2 separate regions of the Homo sapiens genome follow, and region 2 is linked to region 1. Evidence: fine-mapped expression QTL. A gene starts in region 1. The other region holds a variant in brackets. All regions are shown on one strand. Distances are between the middles of the regions. Region 1 holds the start of COPB1 (coat protein complex I subunit beta 1). Region 2 has its middle 56 kb from the start of PSMA1.

Evidence for each region. PIP is the estimated chance that this variant, and not a neighbour inherited with it, causes the effect.
Region 2: its variant is fine-mapped to the expression of COPB1 in lung (TOPMed, PIP 0.94).

Annotation. Positions count from the first base shown.
Region 1 is chr11:14,495,244-14,504,278 of GRCh38, forward strand. It overlaps COPB1 (coat protein complex I subunit beta 1), which reads right to left and starts at 4,568. Exons shown (of 22, transcript NM_001144061.2): 1 at 4,464-4,568; 2 at 3,595-3,742. The coding sequence starts at 3,685. RefSeq lists an enhancer at 4,690-4,789.
Region 2 is chr11:14,571,942-14,580,976 of GRCh38, forward strand. It overlaps a transcript of PSMA1 not described here. Among named protein-coding and RNA genes, the nearest start is that of PSMA1, 56 kb to the left of the region's middle. The variant T/C (reference allele first, on the strand shown) is at 4,019.

The DNA.
Region 1 (9,035 bases):
GTATGTAGTAGCACACTGTACTACAACTGTTTAGATCATCAAAATAAATGAATTATCTTGGGAAGGGGAGAACAAAGAATGATTACAAGTCTTCAATAACCTTAGGGCCATTATGAGGAAAAGAACTACAACTAATGGGTAGTAGTTACCGGGAACCAGATTTGGGCCTAAATATGAGAAATACATTTCTAATGATTAGAGCTAAGCGGCTATGAAACAGAGTTCTGAGCGTCAGATGCGGTGGTTCATCTGGCCCACAGAACTCTTCATTTAATAGCCACTTAAAATTTTTGTATTTTTACTAGAGATGGGGTTTCGCCATGTTGGCCACGCTGGTCTCGAACTCCTGAAGTCAAGTGATCCACCTGCCTCAGCTTCCCAAAGTGCTGGGATTACAGGCATGAGCCACCATGCCCAGTCTCAACTCTTCTTAATGGCAAAAATATACATTAAACTGGAGAGTATGTATTTATTTATTGGTTGGAGGAAGGTAGCTAAGGCAGCTTCAATTAAGACTAGGGCATTGTTCCAACTAAGGGCAGATTTTATTCTTTACCTTCCTAGCTATAACCTTAGGTATCCTGAGGATCTAACAATGAAAATTTTTAAATTATGAGGAAAAACACTAATGAATGTATTCACTATTTTGCATTCAACTATCCTACATGAACATGAAAAAAGGGAAATATATGTGGCTTATGTATATAATGGTATCATTTTAAATATCATAAAACTGGGTTTCTTTTCCCTTCTCTAAAAATAGACCTCAATAGAAACCTAGTATTAAGTAACCTAGAATCAGGAGGTATTCCATTACTGCTGATTAAGAAGTGGGAATAGGCAAGTAAAATATTAAGTTTCTTTTCAAACTGCAAACTATCTTCTAAAAGATCCTTTCTATATTTGAAGCATAATTTTCACTCTGCTCTGTTTAAACAATATTTATCAGTTTAAGTTGTATTTATTTTTAGCAGTTCAATTAAACAAGAATCATTACTTTGGAAAGCATATTAATTATAAATTTTTTTTTTCTTGACAGAATCACTCACAAAAAGGAGACACGGTATACATTTTTAAAATTCAGAAATATGATAAATTTAGTAAAGTTCCAGGACACAAAATCAACATACAAAAATCAGTAGCATTTCTATATGACAACAGTGAACAATCTGAAAAAGAAATTGAAGAAGTAATCTAATCCCATTTACAATACCCACAGATAAAATTAGATACCTAGGAATTAATTTAACCAAATAAATGAAAGATTTCTACAATGAAAACTATAAATACTGATGAAAGAAATTGAAGAGAACATCAACAAATGGAAAGATATTCCATGATCATGGATTAGAAGAATCAGTATTGTTAAAATGTCCATACCACCCAAAGCAATCTAGAGTCAATGCAATTCCCATCAAAATACCAATGACATTCTTCACAGAAAAAAAAAAAAAATCCTAAAATTTATATGGAACCACAAAAGACCCAGAATAGCCAAAGCTATCCTAAGCAAAAAGAACAAAACTGAAGGAATCACATTACTTGACATCAAATTATCCTACATAGCTACAGTAACCAAAACAGCATGGTACTGGCATAAAAACAGACATAAAGACCCATGGAAAATAACAGAACCAAGAAACAAATCCATACACCTACAGTGAACTCATTTTGACAAAGGTGCCAAGAACATACATTGGAGAAAAGACAGTCCCTTCAATAAATGGTGCTTGGAAAACTATGTGCAGAAGAATGAAACTTGTCCCCCATCTCTCAACTTACACAAAAATAAAATCAAAATGGATTAAAGGCTTAAATCTAAGACTTTAAACTATGAAACTACTACAAGAAAATATTGGGAAAAATCTCCAGGACGCTGGTCTGGCCAAAAATTTCTTGAATAATACCCCACAGGCACAGGCAACCAAAGCAAAAACGGACAAATGGGATCACATCAAGTTAAAAAGCTTCCGCACAGCAAAGGAAACAATCGACATACGTGATGAGACAACCCACAGAATGGGAGAAAATATGTGCTAACTACCTATCTCACAAGGGATTAATAACCAGATATGTAAGGAGCTCAAACAACTCTACAGGAAAAAAAAAAACTCATAATCTGATTTAAAAATGGGCAAAAGATTTGAACAGACATTTCACAAAGACATACAATTGGCAAACAGGCATATGAAAAGGTGCTCAACATCACTGATCATCAGAGAAATGCATATCAAAACTACAATGAGATATCATCTCACCCCAGTTAAAATGGCTTTTATCCAAAAGACAAGCAAAAACAAATGCTGGAGAGGATGTGGAGAAAAGGGAACCCTCGTACACTGTTGGTGGGAATGTAAACTAGTATACCCACTATGGAGAACAGTTTGGAGGGTCCTCAAAAAACTAAAAACAGGGGTACCATACGATTCAGCAATCCGACTACTGGGTATATATCCAAAAGAAAGGAAATGAGTACATCAAAGAGATATCTGGACTCCTATGTTTGTTGCAGCACTGTTTACAACAGTCAAAACTTGAAAGCAACCTAAGTGTCCACCAACAGATAAATGTATAAAGAAAATGTGGTACATATACACAATGGAGTACTATTCAGCCATAAAAAAAGAATGAGATCTTGTCATTTGCAAAAATATGGATGGAACTGGAGGTCATTATGTTACATGAAATAAGTCAGGCATAGAAAGACAAACTTCACATGTTCTCACTTATTTGTGGAAGCTAAAAATCAAAACAAACTCACGGAGACAGAGTAAAAGGATGGTTATCAGAGGTGGGAAGGGTAGTGGTAGGGAAGTGGAGATGGTTAATGGGTACAGAAAAAATGAGTTAGACCCGATATTTGATAGCACACAGGGTAACTACAGTCAATAATAATTTAATTGGACATTTAAAAATAACTGAAAGTGTAACTGGATTGTCACACAGAAGACAAATGCTTGAAGGGATGGATACTCCATTTTTCCATGTGATAATTATGTATTGCATGCCTGTATCAAAGCATTTCATGTACCCCATAAATATATACATCTACTGTGTACCCCCAAAAATTAAACATTACAAAAAGTTCAGAAATATAGTTGTTTTCTTATTTGCAAAAATGCATAAAAAATGAAAAGGTAAACTTTTCTGGAAAATACATGTTTATTCCAGTGTTCACCTAATTGTTTGGGTGGGTAATCCAAAGAACAAAGTTCTTTTGGTTTTACAAGCTAAGTAACATGAAGTTAAGTGCACGATGGAATTAAGATATTCCAATACACATCCTCAACCTGTTGCCTAGAGAAAATAATCAGCCACATTAATATATTGAAGTCTACAAAAATTATGACATTTTGAGGAATATCTAAACTATTACAATTTCTTTAGGTTTACTAAGATAAACTGAGATGTTCTATTTCAAACAACCAATATTTAAAGAAGTTCGCATTTTTAATAAAAGGTCTATCGAAGAGATCCTAGAAAAACTTTAGACAAAAATTAAGCATTTCTAATTATAAAGGAATATGAAATATGAGTTTTTTATTTTTGTTTTTTCTTTTTTCATTTCATTCTCAAAATAATATCGAAGTTTACCTAGATCATTTTTTAAGCTAATTTCAGATGGTGGTTCTGAATCCATTGGCACGTTAATTAACGTGTAGCATACGTTCTCAGCCGCCGTCATGGTTTCTGGTTATATTATAACCAATCCTTGACACAAGATTTAAGGATGCCAGAAAATCTAGAAAAATAAACACAGACATATCATTACAAATTAAAAAAAAAAAACCCACAAACAAGTACCTATAGTGACCTTTTAAAGTATTAGAAAGGGCAGGTCAATCTATATCGTGTTCCCATAAAAATAAATTCTAGTAAAAACCACATTATCAGCTCTGGCATAAGGTATATTATCTATCACTCCCTCATCGCATCCCGGTCCAGTGTTTGAGAATGCTGTATAGCCGAATGAAGGCCCACAGAACAGTGACAGTCCCCCCAGCCACACCCCACAATGTTATGGACCGTATGGTTTTTACACAACACACAATCTGCATGCTCAAGTTAAGAGACCTTGTGCCTGAATACTCTGCCAAAACCCTAAAGCGCTTTATCGCGGTCCTTGGTGGGTTCCGACTCTATGTCCGCGGGTCCCTTAATCAACGCGCTGCACCCCCACCTCGCCCCACCCGCTTCCTCCTCCCCTTCCTCCAGCAAAGCAGCCCTAGGCCTGAAAGGGTACGCCTAGGGGTCTTGGGAGGGAAAAGACCCCCGGCCAATACAAAGGACGGGATGGAGCGTCCGACCCGGAGCTTCCTAGCCCTCCGCCCCCACCCCGACCCGCACCCCCACCCGTACCCCCACCCGGTCCCTTCTGCCAGGCCCAGACGCAAGCGGCCTAGTCGCTCCCCTTCCGCATCTTCCAGCTAGAAAGCCAGTTCTTCCGACTCTGCCCGACCCACCACGCCTCTGGGACTGGGGGCTTGTGGCCCACTACCAGGCTCCGAGGGGCAGTGGTTTGGTGCAGCCGCGGATCCGTCTACTGCGGCTCCGTCTACTCCGGCTATGAACCGCAGCAGCGGCGGCGGCGGCTCCAGAGTCCTTGGCTGACGTGGAAGGGGGTGGGGTAACGACCGAAGCCACAGCCACCTAGCACCTACGGCGACTCAGAGAGGACATGCTTTCTTTGTGCAGCGCTTGCGCGCTGCAAGTATATCCTATTTTCTTCCTCTTCTCTTGTCCAGGGTTTGATTAGGCCGCAGAGCAATGAAACCACGTATTTTCTAGTTTTCCCTGCAAGCCAAGCTCTGAGTTAAGCACTATGCTAATTTAAACGCTAACTGGAAATCGTTCCTTCTTCAGGAACAGTCAAGGGGAGAAAGTGCTTGGAGAGAGGGAAACTTTTACAGGGCTCTGTTCCCGTGAAAAAGAGCTCTGGACTAGAAAGTGGAAACCCAGTAATCCTTTTTCTTGTCCACACCCTAATAAACTGGGAAAGTAACTAATACTATTGGGAAGGTAATTCAGTTATTTTATTAATTATCACTAGATTAAAATCCATTTCAGTTCTTAACATCGCTAGTAGTTTGAATCTGCCTCTCTGCAGGTAGGGCTGGAGTTATTTGAAAATCCAAAGTCACATTGGTATAATTTCTGCTTTTTATTTAATAATGGCCTCTTTCCGTGATCCTTTCTGAGCACCCAGTAGATTAGAAAAAATTTTTATGCATAAAGGGAGACAGTCACTGTTTTAAAGGATTTTACGTATCTCCAAAGACCTGTTACAGCTGCAATCAGCCATAGTACTTTCGGTTTTGCCCATTTGAAGTTCCATAGCACGCCCCGCCCCTACACCTCCCTCTGCCCACAAAAGGGTTTTATGGCCAATTATTAATAACAAAATATCTTAAAGCTTAAGCAAAATACTGCGAATAAAAACAGATCTGACGGCAACTGCCCTAGTTAACAGGTTCATCTCAGGAAGATGGAACACCAATAGTACCTCATTTATGTAGGATCTAGCTCTTTTGAGCTTTCTCTTTTTAGAACCATCAAGCAATCTACAAATTCTTTGAGCACCCAAAATTGTATTCAAAGGCCATGTGTTGACAGCACTTTAAGAGTGCCTCTCTGATTCTGTGCATTCATTTTTTTTAATATTTAATCTTAATGGTAGAGTGACATGAATACAGAGATCCCATATACTCTTTACCTAGTTTCTCCCAATGGTAACATCTTGCATAGTTATAGTACAATATCAATTTCAGGAAATTGACAGACATAATTCACCCAGCCTTGTTCAGACTTCACTAGTTTTACATGTACTCGTTTTTATATTCACTTGTAGACAATTTTATCATGCTTATATGTGTGTAATCACCAACACAGTCGAGACAGAACAGTTCTATCACAAGGATTCTCATGCTGTCCTTTGATAGCCATAGCCACCTCCCACACTAACCTGTGGCAACCACTAATAATTCTCTATGATTTTTATCATCTCAATGTTATATAAATGGAATTATACAATGTAATCTTTTGAGATTGGATTTTTTTACTGAGCATAATTCCCCTGAGATCAATCCCGGGTGTGTGTACAACAGTTTGTTCCTTTTCTGTGTATTCGTTTTTAACATGGAAGTTTTACAAATGCAGTTATCTGGTTTCCAAGCCCACTTAACTTACCAAAAAGTGACAATCTGTCAGCAAGAAATGAGGCCAAAAAAGGTATAAAAACTAGATTTACAGTAAGAAAGCTCAGTTTAGGGCCATCATGGTGTAGGACTTAAACCGTACAGACTTCATTTGCCCCAGAGGTTCATTCTGTTACAGAATAACTTTGAGGTTTCTCATGACCCCAAGTCATTAAGTTCTAAATATGAAAAGGCAAGAAAATGTAATGTTTTACATATTACTTTAGTTAGATCTGAACCTACAATTGTCATTGGCAGTGCATATATTTTTCCATATTCTTAAGTACAAAGCTTTTTGAATGGGTATAAGGACCTTAATATTAACCTCATTAACTCTTCCTGATCTGTTGTAAAATACACTTTGTTTGGGCTGTTTTACTCTAAGATGTAATTATATAATTTTGAATGCCTTTAAATTATAAATGCAGAGCAAAGACCTTGTCATTTTATCAAGGACCATAGAAATTGTGGTATCTAAAAAGTCAAGGCCTAGAGAATAGGGACTTGCCCCAAATCATGTAATGGCCAAACACTGAGTTAGAACTAGGACCTGAATCCTGTCATCTACGTTATTATTTTTATTTTTTTGAGACAAGAGTCTCACTCTGTCACCCAGGCCGGAGTACAGCGGCATGATCATAGCTCACTGCAGCCTCAGACTCTGGACTCAAGTGATTCTCCCACCTCAGCCTCCTGAGTAGCTGGGACCACAGGTGTGTGCCACCACACCAGGCTAAGTTTTAAAAATTTTTGTAGAGATGGGGTCTCACTATATTGCCCAGGCTGGTCTTGAACTGAACTCAAGCAATCCTCCCACCTCGGCCTCTCAAAGTGTTGAGATTACAGGCGTGAGCCAACACACCCAGCCACTGCCTTTTATTCCATGCCAGTTCTTCAGAGCTGCACACATACATGCTCAATAAATTCCAGGTGAATTGAGTATCTTTGTATCAAAGTGACAGGCTTTATAAAACATCATTAGGATTTTACTGTTTGTAATTATTCAACAGACTAAATGGAATATGTGAGTACAACAGACTAAACATGAAAGGGCATCACAATGAACTGTATATACAGTGGGGTTGAGTATTACTGGAGTGGGGAGGACTTTAAGTTCTAAAGTCAGTATATAAGACTAAAAATCACATTGAAAAAATTACTTAAATTGCTCCCAAAGTATAATACAGAATATTTATTTTTTTAGCTGAATACAAGCCAACTAGTGGTTTGTATTTGTGGAACAGGTGCATGTTCCACAATGATAAACATAACAATATCTTTGGTTTTATTTTTTGAGACAGAGTCTCGCTCTGTCACCTGGCCAGGCTGGAGTGCAGTGGCATGATCTCGGCTCACTGCAACCTCTGCCTCCCAGGTTCAAGTGATTCTCCTGCCTCAGCCTCCCGAGTAGCTGGGACTACAGGCGCGTGCTACCATGCCCATTTAATTTTTGTATTTTTAGTAGAGACGGGATTTTGCCATGTTGCCCAGGCTGGTCTCGAACTCTTGACCTCAGGTGATCCACCCGCCTCGGCCTCCCAAAGTGCTGGGATTACAGGTATGAGCCACAATATCTTTAAACAGCAGAATCATTCAGCAAAGACAGAGGCTCACCCAATGGAATGCATGTGGAAGAGAGATCTGCCTAAGCAAAGGGCAGATTATTATATTTCCCACTTATGCTCCCTCCCCAGACTAAATACCCATTGAGTGTAGAGGCAGGTGGGAGTTCCTGAGTTCACTATTTTGTGTGTGTGTGTGTGTGTGTGTGTGTGTGTATGTGTGTGGAAAGTTACATGTGCTTGATGCAACTCCACTGTAGGTCAAATAGCCACATGGTACTTGCGTCTAACTCCCAAGCTTGCATGGTAGATTCCTGAGGCTACTGCTGGAGAAACTGACATCTCTCACATTCCAGTACTTAGACATCTTTCCCTTAATAAGGCTCCCAGAGCTACTTTTACCATTCTCTAAGAAATCAGGGGGATTTAAACCTACTAAGGCTTTTGAAGATTTGGGAAAGTTGGGGGGAAAAAATAAACTATGAATTTTAGAGTTTAAAAGGTGTTATCACATAAATTCTCCCTTTTAACCCTCACTATAATTCTCCAAAGGGTTTCCTTAAAAAAGAGCTAAGTAACTTGCCCAAAGCCAATAGCAGCTAATTAGAATTAGGTCTAAAATGGGTTACTATCTATAAATGAATTTTTCTTCAGAAAGATGTATTATCTCAGAAAATAAAATAACTCCTCTAGATGTCAGCAGCCAAATTTTGGATTATGGTTTTTGTCTTTTTTTTTTTTTTTTTTTTTTGAGACAGAGTCTCGCTCCAGGCTGGAGTGCAGTGGCGCGATCTTGGCTCACTGCAAGCTCCGCCTCCCGCGTTCACGCCATTCTCCTGCCTCAGCCTCTCCGAGTAGCTGGGACTACAGGCACCCTCCACCATGCCCGGCTAATTTTTTGTATTTTCAGTAGAGACGGGGTTTCACCGTGGTCTCGATCTCCCGATCTCGTGATCCGCCTGCCTCGGCCTCCCAAAGTGCTGGGATTACAAGCGTGAGCCACCGCGCCTGGCCGGATTATGGGTTTTTAAAAATTAAATTAAATTAAAATTTTTTTTGAGATGGAGTTTCACTCTTGTTGCCCAGGCTAGAGTGCAATGGCACGATCTTGGCTCACTGCAACCTCTGCCTCCTGGGTTCAAGCGATTCTCCTGCCCCAGCCTCCTGAGTAGCTAGGATTACATGCATGTGCCACCACACCCAGCTAATTGTTTTGTATTTTTAGTAGAGATGAGGTTTCTCCATGTTGGTCAGGCTGGTCTGGAACTCCCGACCTCAA
Region 2 (9,035 bases), 77 kb after region 1:
TTAATTCAACAAGAAGAGCTAACTATCCTAAATATATATGCACCCAATACAGGAGCACCCAGATTCAGAAAGCAAGTCCTTAGAGACCTACAAAGAGACTTAGACTCCCATACAATAATAATGGGAGAATTTAACACCCCACTGTCAATATTAGACAGATCAACGAAACAGAAAGTTAACAAGGATATCCAGGAATTGAACTCAGCTCCACAGCAAGTGGACCTAATAGACATCTACAGAACTCTCCACACCAAATTAACAGAAGATATATTCTTCTCGGCACCACATCGCACTTATTTCAAAATTGACCACATATTTGGAAGTAAAGCACTCCTCAGCAAATGTAAAAAAACAGAAATTTTAAGAAACTGTCTCTCAGACCACAGTGCAATCAAACAAGAACTCAGGATTAAGAAATTCACTGAAAACTGCTCAACTACATGGAAACTGAACAACCTGCTCCTGAACGACTACTGAGTACATAACGAAATGAAGGCAGAAATAAAGATGTTCTTTGAAAACAGTGAGAACAGAGACACAACATACCAGAAACTCTGGGACACATTTAAAGCAGTGTGTAGAGGGAAATATATAGCACTAAATGCCTGCAAGAGAAAGCAAGAAAGATCTAAAATTGACACCCTAACATCACAATTAAAAGAACTAGAGAAGCAAGAGCAAACACATTCAAAAGCTAGCAGAAGGCAAGAAATAACTAAGATCAGAGCAGAACTGAAGGAGATAGAGACACAAAAAACCCTTCAAAAAATCAATGAATCCAGGAGCTGGTTTTTTGAAAAGATCAACAAAACTGATAGACTGATAGCAAGACTAATAAAGAAGAAAAGAGAGAAGAATCAAACAGACACAATAAAAAATGATAAAGGGGATATTACCACCAATCCCATGGAAATACAAACTACCATCAGAGAATACTATAAACACCTCTACGCAAATAAACTAGAAAATCTAGAAGAAATGGATAAAATCCTGGACACATACACCCTCTGAAGACTAAACCAGGAAGAAGTTGAATCTCTGAATAGACCAATAACAGGAGCCGAAACTGAGGCAATAATTAATAGCCTACCAACCAAAAAAAGTCCAGGACCAGATGGATTCACAGCCGAATTCTACCAGAGGTACAAGGAGGAGCTGGTACCATTCCTTCTGAAACTATTCCAATCAACAGAAAAAGAGAATCCTCCCTAACTCATTTTATGAGGCCAGCATCATCCTGATACCAAGCCTGGCAGAGACACAACAAAAAAAGAGAATTTTAGATCAATATCCCTGATGGACATCGATGCAAATATCCTCAATAAAATACTGGCAAACCGAATCCAGCAGCACATCAAAAAGCTTATCCACCATGATCAAGGGGGCTTCGTCCCTGGGATGTAAGGCTGGCTCAATGTATGCAAATCAATAAACATAATCCAGCATATAAACAGAACCAAAGACAAAAACCACATGATTATCTCAATAGATGCAGAAAAGGCCTTTGACAAAATTCAACAGGCCTTCATGCTAAAAACTCTCAATAAATTAGGTATTGATGGGACATATCTCAAAATAATAAGAGCTATTTATGACAAACCCACAGCCAATATCATATTGAATGGGCAAAAACTGGAAGCATTCCCTTTGAAAACTGGCACAAGACAGGGATGGCCTCTCTCACCACTCCTATTCAATATACTATTGGAAGTTCTGGCCAGGGCAATCAGGCAGGAGAAAGAAATAAAGGGTATTCAATTAGGAAAAGAGGAAGTCAAATTGTACTTGTTTGCAGATGACATGATTGTATATCCAGAAAACCCCATCGTGTCAGCCCAAAATCTCCTTAAGCTGATAAGCAACTTCAGCAAAGTCTGGAACTTATTGGGAACTGGAGCAAAGGTCACTTTTGTTATGCATTAGCAAAGAGCCTGGCGGTAGTGTGCCCCTGCTCTAGACATCTGTGGAACTTTGAATTTGAGATATATGATTTAGAGTATCGGGCAGAAGAAATTTCTAAGCAGCAAAACATTCAAGAATTGCCCTGGCTGCCTCTAAAATTCTATGTTCATATGCATGAACAAAGAAATAACCTGAAACTGGAACTTATATTTAAAAGAGAAGCAGAGTATAAAAGTTTGGAAAATTCACAGCCTGGCCATGTGGTAGAAAAGAAACACCCATTTTCAGGGAAGGAATTAAAGGAGGCTGCAGAAATTTGCATATCTCAAAGAGAGGGAAGTACTAGTAGCCAAGACAATGGGAAAAAGACCCTGAAGATATTTTACAGACCTTCACAACAGCCTCTCTTATCACAGGTCCAGAGGCCTAGGAGGGAAAAATGATTTTGTGGGTCAGGCCCAGGGCACACTGCTCCCTACATCCCAGCCACTCCAGCTCCAGATGTGGCTCAAAGTTACCCAGGTACTTGGGCTGCTGCTTCAGAAGGTGCAAGCCATAAGCCTTGGTAGCTTTCACACGGTGTTAAGCCTGCAGGTGCACATAGTGCAAGAGTTGAGGCTTGGATGCCCCTGCCTAGATTTCAGAAGACGTATGGTGATATGGTTTGGCTGTGTTCTCACCCAAATCTCATCTTGAATGGTAGTTCCCATAATCCCCATGTGTTGTGGGAGAGACCCAGTGGGAGGTAATTGAATGATGGGGGTGGTTACCCCCATCTCCTGATTGTGAGTTTTCATGAGATCTGATGGTTTTATAAGGGGCTTTTCCTGCTTTGGTCAGCACTTCTTTCCCCTGCCACCATGTCAAGAAAGACATGTTTGCTTCCCCTTCCACAATAATTATAAGTTTCCTGAGGCCTCCTTAGCCATGCAGAACTGTGAGTCAATTAAACTTCTTTCCTTTATAAATTACCGAGTCTTGGGTATTATCTTTGCAGCAATGTGAGAATGGACTTATACAGTAAATTGGTACCACTATAGTGGGGTGCTGCTATAAGGATACTAAAAAATGCAGAAGTGACTTTGGAACTGGGTAACAGGCAGAGGTTGGAACAGTTTGGAGGGCTCAGAAGAAGAAAGGAAAATGTTGGAAACTTTAGCACTTCCTAGAGACCTGTTGAAGGGCTTTGACCAAAATGCTGATAGTGATATGGACAATGAAGTCCCAGGCTGCGGTGATCTCAGATTGAGATGAGAAACTTGTTGGGAACTGGAGATGAACTCTTGCTTTGCTTTAGCAAAGAGACTGGCGGAATTTTACCCCTGCCCTAGAGATCTGTGGAACTTTGAACCTGGGGGAGATGATTTAGGGTATCCAGCAGAATAAATTTCTTTTTTTAAATTTTAAAAAAATTTATTATAGTTTAATTATAATACTTTAAATTCTAGGGTACATATGCACAATGTGCAGGTTTGTTACATATGTATACATGTGCCATGTTGGTGTGCTGCATCCATTAACTCGTCATTTACATTAGGTATATCTCCTAATGCTATCCCTCCCCCCTACCCCCACCCCACCTCAGGCCACAGTGTGTGATGTTCCCCACCCTGTGTCCATGTGTTCTCATTCTTCAATTCCCACCTACGAGTTAGAACATGCGGTGTTTGGTTTTCTGTCCTTGGGATAATTTGCTCAGAATGATGGTTTCCAGCTTCCTCCATGTCCCTACAAAGGACATGAACTCATCCTTTTTTATGGCTGCATAGTATTCCATGGTGTATATGTGCCACATTTTCTTCATCCAGTCTATCATTGTTGGACATTTGGGTTGGTTCCAAGTCTTTGCTATTGTGAATAGTGCCGCAATAAACATACGTGTGCATGTGTCTTTATAGCAGCATGATTTATAATCCTTTGGGTATATACCCAGTAATGGGATTGCTGGGTCAAATGGTATTTCTAGTTCTAGATCCTTGAGGAATCACCACACTGTCTTCCACAATGGTTGAACTAGTTTACAGTCCCACCAGCAATGTAAAAGTGCTCCTATTTCTCCACCTCCTCTCCAGCACCTGTTGTTTCCTGACTTTTTAATGATCACCATTCTAACTGG[T/C]GTGAGATGGTATCTCATTGTGGTTTTGATTTGTATTTCTCTGATGGCCAGTGATGATGAGCATTTTTTCATGTGTCTGTTGCCTGCATAAATGTCTTCTTTTGAGAAGTGTCTGTTCATATCCTTTGCCCACTTTTTGATGGGGTTGTTTGATTTTTTCTTGTATATTTGTTTTTTTCTTGTAAATTTGTTTAAATTCTTTGTAGATTCTGGATATTAGCCCTTTGTCAGATGGGTAGATTGTAAAAATTTTCTCCCATTCTGTAGGTTGCCTGTTCTCTCTGATGGTAGTTTCTTTTGCTGTGCAGAAGCTCTTTAGTTTAATTAGATCCCATTTGTCAATTTTGGCTTTTGTTGCCATTGCTTTTGATGTTTTAGTCATGAAGTCCTTGCACATGCCTATGTCCTGAATGGTATTGCCTAGGTTTTCTTCTAGGGTTTTTATGGTTTTAGGTCTAACATTTAAGTCTTTAATCCATCTTGAATTAATTTTTGTATAAGGTGTAAGTAAGGGATTCAGTTTTAGCTTTCTACATATGGCTAGCCAGTTTTCCCAGCACCATGTATTAAATAGGGAATCCTTTCCCCATTTCTTGTTTTTGTCAGGTTTGTCAAAGATCAGATGGTTGTAGATGTGTGGTATTATTTCTGAGGGCTCTGTTCTGTTCCATTGATCTATATCTCTGTTTTGGTTCCAGTGACATGCTGTTTTGTTTACTGTAGCCTTGTAGTATAGTTTGAAGTCAGATAGCATGATGCCTCCAGCTTTGTTCTTTTGGCTTAGGATTGTCTTGGCAATGCAGGCTCTGTTTTGGTTCCACGTGAACTTTAAAGTAGTTTTTTCCAATTCTGTGAAGAAAGTCATTGGTAGCTTGATGGGGATGGCATTGAATCTATAAATTACCTTGCGCAGTATGGCCATTTTCATGATATTGATTCTTCCTATCCGTGAGCATGGAATGTTCTTCCATTTCTTTGTGTCCTCTTTTATTTCGTTGAGCAGTGTTTTGTAGTTCTCCTTGAAGAGGTCCTTCACATCCCTTGTAAGTTGGATTCCTAGGTATTTTATTCTCTTTGAAGCAACTGTAAATGGCAGTTCACTCATGATTTGGCTCTCTGTTTGTCTGTTATTGGTGTATAAGAATGCTTGTGATTTTGCACATTGCTTTTGTATCCTGAGCTAACACTTGCTAAATGCCAGTCACTGTTCTAAGAAATCAGTATGTTATTTACTAACTTATTTGATTCCATGAAAGCCCTATAAGATAGGTCACTATTATTATCTTCATTTTACAGAGGAGAAATCTGCTCATGGTTCTGTAGTGGTACAGATGAGAAAACAATTAAGTAATCTGCTCATGGTTGCGCTGCCATTAAGTAGTGAAGGCAGGATCTGAACTCAGGTACTCCAGTCTCATAAAGAACATGCTTTAATACTACTACTAATTTTCTCCTTCCAATGATGATCTTTCCTCCATTCTACCTCTGCTATCCACTTCCACTGTCATACTGTGAACCCTCACATCACCTCAACCTGCCTCATCTTGAAATCACTAATTCAGGCATCTCACCCTCTGACCAACTTCCTGTCTCTCCAGAGAAGTTATAAAACAACAATAAAAGTAATAGTAATAATAGCATTTATATAGCCTAAGTGCTCTTCACAAGTTAACTTATTTATTCCTCACAATTCCCTGGCAAATGTAGGTATTATTACAACTGTTTTACAGATGAGGAAATTGAGGCAAAGGAGGTTAGGTGACATGCTCAAGGCCACACAGCTTATGGGTGGCAAAGCCAGAATTTGAACCCAGACAGTCAGGCTCCAGTGTTCACATCCTTAACTATTGTGTTAAGGATGATAAGCCTGGAGTTGAGGGAAAAGTTATTATCCCACTTAGGAGTTAACAAAAAAATCCATGCCTAACTCATGTTCCAAATATTTGTTTATCTGTTTGTTTGAAAGAGCCTCTAACATGATTTGCATATTCACTCATATTGAGAACCACAAATTAGATCATTTAAACAGCCACATGTTGTCGCTCATAAGTGGGAGTTGAACAATGAGAACACATGGGCACAGGGAGGTGAACATCACACACCGGGGCCTGTTGGGGGGTTGGGGGCTAGGGGAGGGATAGCATTAGGAGAAATACCTAATGTAGATCACGGGTTGATGGGTGCAGCAAGCCACCATGGCAAGTGTATACCTTTGTAACAAACTTGCATGTTCTGCACATGTACCCCAGAGCTTAAAGTATAATTAAAAAAAAATAGTCTCCCAATCTGGAGTTCTGGTCAAGTTTAACCCTATTGTTTGTTGTCCTGCTGGCCTTGGTTAGAATTGCTTCACATAAACAGGACAGGGCTGGGCTTGAGAGTGTCAGCATTATGACTTGTCCAGTTAAATGAAAAAAGCATCATTGTCAGTAGCTTGGCAGGGCTGGAGCAAGAAAGGATGGACAAATTTCTTGATACAGACATGATACCTGACGTGTTATTACTTGTGTTCATCTGATTTAATCCAATAGCTAGGAAGAAGACTAACTGATTAGCTGGGAATAGCTCAGGGCAGCAGTTTGCAACTCATTAATATGATGGCTTCTACTATAAGAAGAAAGCAGAATGAGAAATGCAAAGTAAAGAAGGTATTCTTGGCATGGGTCCAGGGGAAAAGCAGTCTGGCTGAAACCATTCAGTTTCGTCAGTCAGGAAGCAGCTATCTACGTAAACAGGAAGTAGAGAAGGTTGCAGGAGAGGGCAGTGGTTAGTTGGTGACAAACAAGAGCTGATACCAGATGGGTGTAAGTGGTTACATGTAAAAGAGATTCTGATAGAGGCCCAGACATTGCATGTTAATTATCCCGGCCTTCTCCTGGGAGAGCTTGTTTCACCAGAGTGTCTATGCAACATGTGTTGAGTCCTATTCTCAAATAGATACTTCCTTTAGAGCCTGGTTTTTGCCAGTTGTCTGCTGGGTAGTTTTATTTTATCTCATTGAATCATCTCAACATTCTGTGAGGATGGGATTAGGTGAAGAAACCAGCTCAAAGGGATTAAGTTACCTGGCCTAAATTCATTTACATCATGCTATTATACAACACTTTGGAAACTGTCTCCTCTCTTAAAAGTAACTATTAGGTATAACCTATTAGAAAGAAGGTATGTTGACATTCTAGAGATGCCATAACAAATTGCTACAAACCTCGTGACTTAAAACAACATAAATCTATCCTTTTACTATTCTAGAGGACAGAAGTCTGAAATCAAGGTATTGGCAGGGCCATGATCCTTCTGAAGGTTCTAGAAGAGAATGCTTCTTTGCCTTGTCCAGCTTCTGATGTCTCCAGGCATTCTTTGGCTTCTAGCTACGTAACGGCGATCTCTACCTTCATCTTCATATGGCCTTTCCTCTTTGTCTTTGTCTTTTACTCTTCTGTCTGTTATAAGGATACTTGGAATTGGATTTAAAATCCATCTGGATGATCTCATTTCAAGATCCTTAACTTAATTACAGCTGCAAAGACTTTTTTTTTTTTTTTTTTTTTTTAAATAAGGTAACATTAACAGGGGCCAAGTATTAGGACATGGACACATCCTTTTTGGGGCCAACTTTCGACCAACTATAAGAGGTGTCACTATTATAATATAAATGCAGATTTTGTAGTATTTTAATAACAACTAAGGAATTGAGAGGAGTATGTCTTGATTAGAGTTTCCATGTCTAGATCTCTATTCTTTAAAAGAATAAACTTTTACAAAATGCTAGTTCCCCTAGAAACCCCCCTCAAACCTTTGGCCTATTAGAATTTCAGAGCAAGAGGGGCATGTGATGCAAAGGCACATGTACTTTGAAAATGCCCTCCAAGTGAACATGATATATCCTTCCTACAAGCTACACACCCACATGTGTTTGAGAATTGCTTCTCTGAGGAAATGCCATTCCCAGGCTGATGGATGGGTAAGAGGGAACTTCAAGGTACACTGATTGTGTGCTGAGGAAAGGGAGAGAAAAATCTGTCTGCAGTGATAATGGAGGCCACAAATTGGGTTGATCTGAAGAACCTCAAATCCAAAGAGCAGGGCTGGAAAGAAAGATCTGATTACTACAAGAGAGCGACACTGTTGCTCATGTGATCTGTCTGCAATACAAATGTAATCATGTCACTCTCGCTTGAGATCTCATTGGCTGTCTATGAATAATGGATGATTTTCAGATTCCAGAACACAACACACAAGGATTTCACAAGCTGGCTTCTACCTACTATTTTAGAATCATCTCTCACCACTCTCCCTCAAAGACTGTCTGCTCCTGCCATACTAAAATTCTTGCTATTTCTCAAACACGTCTTATCCTTTATTGCCTTCCTAGCCTTGAACATGCTGTTCCATCTGCTTGGAATGCTATTCTCTGCTGGATAATTCCTGCTACACCTCAAGACCACTTTTCCTGCCACTCCATCTTCTGTCCTGCATTAAAAAGCCTCCTTATTCTCTTCAATAAGTTGGCATCTGCCTCTGCTGTGATTCTAAGTCACTCCATTCATAGGAACTGTTGGCCTTGTGTCCCATCTTAACTTCCCCTGAGTCCAGTACTTTGAGAGCTTCTAGAAAGATAAAACTGTGTCATACTCATCCCTAAATCTCCAGTGCCTAGTAAGTGCTTAATAAACATTTGCTGAAAAATGAAAGGATCAGATCATTATGGCTTCAAGTCTGAAATACATACTTGGTTTGGTGATAGTGGGATCCAGGCTTTAGATCTTAAGCCTGTCAGACTGGAGCCATAGGCAGAGAAGAACACAAGGGAGTAAGTCTGGAAGAGGCACAAGAAGAGGGAATTGTAGGAAACTGAGAGATTATCCAGTTTGGAGGCATAATGGGGGTTGTTTAAGAAGATTAGGAGCCCTCAGTTCATTCTCCCATCTTCAGCATGGAAACTACTGAAGTGGAATCGTGTTGGGATTCCCCTTAATACCAGTGGCAACACATCAGGAGTGATAGGAATGACAGATGA